2 linked regions of the Homo sapiens genome follow. The protein of the gene in region 2 purifies or fractionates together with the protein of the main gene of each other region. This does not show direct contact. Each region holds a gene or a part of one and is shown on either strand. Other genes may lie near its edges.

Evidence for each region.
Region 1: the proteins of CYP8B1 (region 2) and PTP4A2 purify together in Homo sapiens (affinity purification with mass spectrometry; one large-scale study listed by BioGRID and IntAct). This does not show direct contact.

Annotation. Positions count from the first base shown.
Region 1 is NC_000001.11:31,910,709-31,914,521, forward strand, and holds part of PTP4A2 (protein tyrosine phosphatase type IVA 2), read right to left. Parts: intron 1,119-3,813; coding exon 988-1,118; intron 1-987.
Region 2 is NC_000003.12:42,872,967-42,877,532, forward strand, and holds the start of CYP8B1 (7-alpha-hydroxycholest-4-en-3-one 12-alpha-hydroxylase), read right to left. Parts: upstream 2,914-4,566; 5' UTR 2,851-2,913; coding exon 1,345-2,850; 3' UTR 1-1,344. UniProt on the Homo sapiens protein: A cytochrome P450 monooxygenase involved in primary bile acid biosynthesis. Catalyzes the 12alpha-hydroxylation of 7alpha-hydroxy-4-cholesten-3-one, an intermediate metabolite in cholic acid biosynthesis.

The sequences.
Region 1 (3,813 bases), on a different chromosome or scaffold from region 2:
TCATTGGCCTTTAGCCATTATCACAGTAAAATAAATGACCAAACATATTACTTATCTCCAATGTGTCAGAATTTTCATTACCAATTGATTTTAATATTTCCTTATCAAATGCTAAAAAGGTGCTAGACGTTTTCAAGAAAATCCTTTTGATGAGCTAGGAAAATGCCCAAGAATTGATGACTAGAAGAAGTTCTATCTTTTTAAAAAAATTTAACAAAGGAAATGATGTTTTTATAAAGCCCATTACAGGGCACCAATTTTGGGCTACCTAAAACTAGGATAGCTACTAGTTATAAAACTGCCAACTCACGTTACAACATTATCTTCAACCTTCAGGATAAGGACTAAAACTTCTAACCTTATGAACAAACAGTACCACACTACAAAAAAGGAAATAGCAAACAAAAGGGCAGAGCAGAACTAACAGCTTGAGTAATCACCACCTTGAGGCAATGGCAGCCTACACTAATGTTTTGAGTCAAAGTGTGCATCCTAAATTGGCATTTAATCTGCTGCTGATGACAGCGTTGCAACACCATTCTAAGCAATGCTCAGGGGAAAAGGTTTTAAGATCAAAGTCAATTCTTGTCCATACATCTTCTTTCAAGAGTTTAAAGTTCAGATATCTGCTATCTATTAACTTCCCATTCATCTCAGTCCAAAATTAACCATGTATAGATTCATCAAACTCTAAAATTATTTTAATTTTGTTGCCAATTTCAGTGACCTGAACTTTTGATTACTTGAAATAGGGAGAAAAATAAAACACCCACAATCCAGGCTGGCATCAGAATCAGACAACCAGATGAAATGAACAGGCTCTTTTGAGAAATCATTACACTAGTTTTTCCTCTCATTTCCTTTCCTTTCAGGTAATTTAATGTTATTTAGTATAATATATGCAAATGTCTACCAAAGTGAAACTTTCAACTAACTTAGGCATGGTAATGAATTCAGACAAAAAGGGTAATAAAGGTAAGAGTTTACCTTCCCAATCCTGCAACACAATGCACTGCAACACAGCAACCTGGCTCTTCACGAAATTTGGTTTTTAACAGGTTTAACCAATCATCTACTATCTGATTAGGGGGTGGAGCTCCATCATCAAATGGCCAATCCTGAAAAGAAATGACCTTTTACATTAAATTGATATTTTCTCCATGATTAACATCCTAATACAGAATACCTGCACACAGTACACACGGCAGGCCTAACTGAACTAACTGCACTATATATACCTATTGTTAACACAATTCTGATCATTGCTGTAAAATGATCCAGGATTGAAATTAAAGTTTGCCAAATAAATTACCCTTCTCAATGCAGTGTCGCACACATCTGAATTTACAAAAACTTACAGAAATCTCTATCAGAGTCATAAGAGCTAGTGTTCTCCCAAAAATGATATCTGAATAGAGTAGTAATTAGACATAATAGACAAAACTGTAATTAAAGCCAAGACAAAGTAACAGAGGACACAGCACATGTCAACATGATTTAAAAGTCCACTCTGGCAAAGCATACCAACTGGTGTCTCATTGGTCTCTACAGATAATTGAAGATTATAATTCAAGATAACTAAGTTATGACATCTTTAGAGAAAGGTTATCTGATAAGAAATCTCCAATAGTTAGTAAATCATAACAGAAACAAACTACCATCTTTGTGCTTATTAAAAGGCAAGCAGTGAGTATTTTTAAAGTGCTTACTAAATTATATATGTCCCCATTTAACAAGGACAGGGCTGCATGACAGGGTCCTGGGCAAATGGAGACCATTTTGTCAAGTATCCCTTTCTCTTTCTGTATTCACCTATTTGGGCTATCTTTCAATTAAGACTAATCCCACGAGCATTCACAGTATAGGCAGGGGTTTATCTTCCTCACTACTTAGCAAGAGGTCCTAAGAAACCAACACAAATGGGGAGTGGAGGAGGGGGACTGGGGGCTGACATTTTACAAGCCTTCCCTCCTGCCATCTAAGCTTCAAAGATAGAAATGCAAAAACACTGTTAGGAATTTTTTTAAAAACATAAGGCTATTCTAATGAGATTGGATAAGGACACTTTAAGATATTAGGGGAGGAAAAAGAGAAAAGTGACAGAGCATTAAATTGATTCTGCATTCATTATTGGCACCACTAGAACACTTCATGTAGCCCATTAGCCAAAACAGTACATGATTGAGTTGACAACTACGCCCCATAATTAAAGGACTGTGTTATTATAAATGTCACTAGAGAGTTTAACTGTAAATAGCAATAAAACCAGTACCTTAGTCAAGAGCTTACTTCCTCTAATACTCCCTAAAATGCACCTAGTTAAGAAACAATATAAAACATGCTTCACTTACTCATATAAGTAGTGTCTATTTTTAAAAAAATCATTAATCATTTAGAAACATCTGAACCTCAAATTGATACAGCTAAAACCACCATTAGTCTATTCCAATGTGTGTCTGGTTTGCAAGAGCATTCAGAGGACTGACAGGCCTTATTTGGGGATATCCTCTTACCATGAAATGTTCCAAAACCCTCCTCACCTAGCAAAATTAGATTAACTCTTAAAATCTCTGTCTGGGAAAAGGAAATTCCAAGCTTAAGGCTAAATGCCCTTGTTTTTTCAAGTGTAAGTTAAACCTTTCATTTTATCTGATCATAGCTATTTATTTATTTGTTTGTTTGTTTGTTTTTAATGACTTATTTTCCTCTGGGTAGATACCCAGTAATGGGATTGCTGGATCAAATGATAGTTCTACTTTTAGTTCTTTAAGGAATCTCCACGCTGTTTTCTATAGTGGTTGTACTAGTTTACATTCCCACCAGCAGTGTACAAGTGTTCCCTTTTCACCACATCCCTGACAACATCTATTTTTTTTTTTAATTTTTTGATTACGGCCATTCTTACAGGAGTAAGGTGGTATCATATTGTGCTTTTGATTTGCATTTCCCAGATCACAGCTATTTAAAACAAAACAAAAACCTAAATTTAAAGGCCTGGAATAAATCTTAGGCCTACCATTATCTTCCTCAAACTAGTTCAAGTTCTTTAGTTCATTTCTATTTCACAAAGATGTTTACCAACATTACTGACTCAAACAGACTATGGTCAATCCAGTCATTTTCTCACTCTGCCATCTGTCAAAACAAGTTGATTTTTGCTCACTAGAGAACATATTCATAATGCAGCAAAATAAACTTGTATGCAGCTTATTTTCGGAAGTTTAAATTTTATTACTACTTTTTAAACACAGGGCTGCATTTGACATGTTTACACTCATTCCCAGTGATTTCCAGCAGTGGACAGTAAAGTCATTTAGAAATTTGACTGCAAGCAAATTATTACCATGCCAAACTATTAAAACACATTATTGACTGATTGACTGACAAGGTCTCTGTCACCCAAGCTGGAGCACAGCAGCACAATCATGGCTCACTGCAGCCTTGACCTCTCGGGTTCAGGTGATCCTCCCACCTCAACCTCCCAAGTAGCTAGGACTATAGGTGCATGCCATCACGTCCAGCTAATTTTTGTATTTTTCGGAGAGACAGGGTTTCACCATGTTGCCCCACTAGTCTTGGAACTCCTGGACTCAAGTGATCCACCTACCTTGGCCTCCCAGAGTGGTGGGAACAGGCATGAGCCACCACACAGGGCCCTAAAACACATTTTTTTAAAACACATTTGGCTATTTAGTTTTTATTTTCACCAAAATGGACATGAGGAAACTATGGATCAGATATAAGAGGACTGCCTTACCAATAGGTCATTATTCTTTTTGCATCAACTGCCTTCCCAACCACTGACCAATATAA
Region 2 (4,566 bases):
GGTCTGGGGATAGAAGAAAGCTCTGAGTTCAGCAATGATCATGGAAACCAAGGGAGGGTTGACAGCACCCTGAGGTGGGGGAGACATGGGCACTGAGGAGGGATCTTGAATGATTCCTACATTAAAGACATCCTGACTGGGCACAGTGGCTCATGCCTGTAATCCCAGAACTTTGGGAGGCCGAGGAGGCCGGCCAAAATGGTGAAACGCCGTCTCTACTAAAAATACAGAAACTAGCCGGGTGTGGTGGTGCGCACCTATAATCCCAGCTACTCAGAAGCCTGAGGCAGGAGAATTACTTGAACCCGGGAGGCAGAGGTTGTAGTGAGCCAAGATCACACCACTGCACTGCAGCCTGGGCAACAGAGTGAGACTCTGTCTCAAAAAAAAAAAAAGGTATCATTTCTCTAGACCTGTGCTATCCAATAGGGCAGCCACCTGCCACACACGGCAATTAAGCACTTGGAATGTGGCTAGTCTGAACTGGGAAGAACTGCAAAAGTACAGTACATACCAGACTTTGAAGACAGGATGAAAAAGGGAAGGTAAAAACTATTACGTTAAAATTTTTAATAGTGATCACGTTGAAATGCCAATATTTTGGATATATTGGATTAAGTAAAGTATATTATAAAAATGAATTGTTTCATTTTACTTTTTAAAAATGTGTTTACCAGGAAACTAAATTAGCTGGGCAAGGTGGTAGGTGCCTGTAATCCCAGCTACTGGGGAGGCTGAGGCAGGAGAATTGCTTAAACCCAGGAGGCAGAGGTTGCAGTGAGCAGAGATCGCACCGCTGCACTGCAGCCTCGGCGACAGAGCAAGACTCTGTCTCAAAACAAACAAACAAAACCAAAAAACCCCACTACTCATGTAGCTTGCTTCATATTTATGTTGGATGACACTGTTCTAGAACCTGAATTCCATAGGATGTGGGATAAGTGTTGCTGAAAAAACTAAAGCAAGCTGGGAGAGTGGAGGCTGATGTTTGCAAGATGCCATGTTACTCGTGTCTGGGGGGAACCAGTCTCTGTACTCAGGACTTCTCAAGGCAGGCATCATCTCCCAAACCAAGTTGCCCACAGATACTCCCCCTTCCTCTGGACTTCCTGTGAGAGGAGGGTTCGGCAGAACCCACTCTGAGAGATGGTATTTTAAAGAGAATGATAAGCCTGTCAGATGACTAGGCGGGGAGAGAGCGAGGACAGGCAGAACAGAGGTAGGGGGTGCCACAGGACCAGAGGGAGGGGTGGCCAGTGGGGTCTTGGGGCTGCAGAGGGGTGAGAACAGGTGAGAGATGCAATAGAACTCCTCTGGCCAGGTTTGCAGCTGGCTTGGCCAAGCTCACTCTGTAGGATGCAGGCGGTAGCGGAAGCGCACATCGTGGCTGGGCTGCATGGTGCCAAAACCCCAGCGCTGCGGGTCAACATGGGGTAGTGGTGTGTCAGGGTCCACCAACTCTAAGTCAAAGTGTGTGACCATAAGCAGGATAAAGAGCTTCACCTCACTGAGTGCAAAGAACCTCCCAGGGCAGATGGAAACGCCCGAACCCCAGGGCATGGTGTAGTGGTGGATCTTCTTGCCTGTCTTGAAGAAGTCCACTTTCCGGCTGCCATTAGGGTTGAGGAAGCGATCGTACTTGAAGACGGTGGGCTCAGGGTGGATGTCAGGGTCCATGTGCACTGAGAGGTAGGGAAAGAGGGCCAGGATGTCTCCATGGCGGAACAGATACTCCTGCCCACTGGACATCTTCAGGGTATAGTCTTCATGAACCAACCTGAGGAGGGTGGGTGCAGCCCTCAGCCGCAGCGTCTCCTCCACCACGCTGTCTAGAACTGGGGTGTGTTGCAGGGCACCGAGTTTGAAGGCAAAGGACTGCTTGGTCTCCAGCCTGGCCTCACCCAGGACCTGGGTAGCTTCCTCCCTCACAGCCCGAATAGCTTCTGGGTGCTTCAGGAGGTACAAGAGGGCCCAGAAAGAGGTAGGCCCCGTGTTCCCCTGGGAGGCCCAGAGCATCATGAAGTTGAACTTGTCCTGCATAGCTGAGGGTACCCCCTGCTCCCTCAGAAACTGAAGCATGTTGCCCAGCCAGTTGCTGATGCCCTCCTTCTCCTGGCTGTGGCTCACGGAGAGCATCTTGTGAAAGAGACGCTGGAGTCGGCCCACTTCTAGCCACTCCCGGGGCCACAGCAGGGAGTAGACAAACCTTGGGAAAAGAAGGTCAAACTTGCGGAACTCCATGAATAACTCTCCTGCCTGTAGCAGGTCCTGCTCCTTGTCCTTCGTGTAGCCGAACAAGCTCAGGTAGCCAGCTGTGAACAAGATGTAATAGCAGAAGCGAAAGAGGCTGTCCTCATGCCAGCAACTGGCATCCAGACTCCAGCCTTTGGACGTCAGCATTACAAAGGACAGGCTGTCCAGCATGGTCTCATTAAGATCCTTCAAGCCATCCCCCCTCAGATGCTTGGTGCTGGCTGAGTGTATCATCTCATGGTCCCCTTGCACTGAACGGTATCCAAATACCTTCAGCACCAGTTTTTTTGCATATTGCCCAAAGTCTAGTTTTCTCTGTGTGTCCTTGAGGATGGAGCCAAAGGAGAGGGGGTCCATGACGAAGGTGAAGTACTGGCCCCCTAGCTGCACTGTGAACACATCCCCATGCTTGGTCCTCATGCGCTTCAGAAATTCAAACATATTCTTCCGGAAAGCCATGGCATGGCCAAGCCAGGGCACGGTACCCTTGTCCAGAGGGGGCTCCCATGGCCTGCGTTGTCGGAGCATCCCTGGCAGGCACAGGTATCCAGCAATGACCACCAGCAGAGCTCCCAGCACTGGACCCCAGAGAACCATGGCTATGCTCCTGCGGATTAAGCTCTCGACACGCACACTGTTCCCTGGGTGCCAGAGAGCTTTGGGAGGCCTTGGAAAGTCCAGGATGTAAAGGTCTGAGCACCTGGACCTTGCCCTGTGGCCGCAAGTTATGGCAAATAACACTAGTGAGACAGTACTTGGAAGCAGCAAAATGTTCCCCTGGACTTAACACTTGGCTGACTGGTCACGTAGGGGAGGAGGAGGTAACCAGGAGAAAGCTCAGAGAGAAGCTTCCAGCTATGGTCACAGCTGCTCACCAGCTTCATGCTTTGCTCTGACCTTTTCAGACAGCTCTTGCACCTTCTCTCTAAGCCTGCCTTGAGCCCACTCCCACCCCCATAGCTGACAGACTATTTATACCCCCATTTACTCATGCTTTTATTTATTTGCCAGTTCAGTTGGTAGAAATGAATCAAGCACTTACAAAATCTCACTTCCACTCTTTCCTCATCTTTAGAAGACTCAACAAATGCCTCCATTCCTACTTGGCCCCCTTGGTCAAGTAAGTTAACCTCACTGTGGCTCCACTCCCTCATCTGTGAAGTAGGGATAATTACAGTGCCTTGTAGGTGCTGTTGTGAGGCAAAAAGAGATAACACCTGAAAAGCACTTAGAATAGTGCCTGGCTCATGCTAGTGCTCCATATATGTTAGTTAGTATCCTAAAGCCTTTTCTCTTACCTTTGCCTGCTCCCCTGGACCTCACAGCAGCCCGTGCTTATCTCCTCATTCTTTCCCTAGTCTGTCTTCCTCTCTGGTCTCAAAGATGCTTGCCAAGGGGGCATGACCTTGTTGAAGTCATGTCTGCTCCTACCTCCATGTGCACAGAGTACACAGTCAAAGGCAAGTGAAGAATGACTGTATGCCCTTCCACAACAGCTCTGACCCCTAACCCAAAAAAAGAGGCATTGATGCTGGGGCTTTAGATGCTGAGAAGGCTGAGATGGTGGAGGGGGTGTTGACTCCATCTTGGGGTATGAGTGTGAATGAACTCATCTGAGGAGGCCACAGAGCCTCCCAGATGATGACTCTTCAAGCAGAGGCTGAGCCCTCAGTCTCTGAGCCTCTCACCCGGAGCCCTCTCACCTGCCCAACTGCTTGCCTATACACTTCTCTGACAAGAAGGCAGAATCCTGGAATTGTAAAATGTCAGAGACAATAGAGACCTCACTCAATCACTTCATACTTCATTTCACAATGAGGATCTAGGTGCAGAACGCAGTGGGGACCCTCTTTGACAGCTGCCCTGGCTTGGGGCCTTGAGATAAGCTAATCATTGACTAAGGGCCTTCTGAGACATGTCAGCCCAGGTCCCTGCCAGCAGCTCAAGAGGGAGAAAACTGTACCATTGACGCCAAGGCATTAGTCAAGCAGCCTGGCCCATTGTTGCTATAGGTGAGGTTCAAACTCAATTCAATCAGTTCTGATAACCTCCAAATTACTTTTTAACTTCCTAACGACCTGAGAACAGGGACTTCGGCTCTTCAGACAAAAGAGGGTATGGAACTTCCATATCCCCTCTGGAGTGAGCTTCCTTTGCCTATGAGCTTCCCCTTGGCAGGGAGTTGGAACTGTCCACACTCTGCTTCCCAGAATCCCTCTTTAATTGTTCAGGACCACCACAGTACTTGGCATCATCAACTCTCCTCAACCTTAGAATTCGGTCTGAAACTGGGCCAAATCCAATGAACTGAAC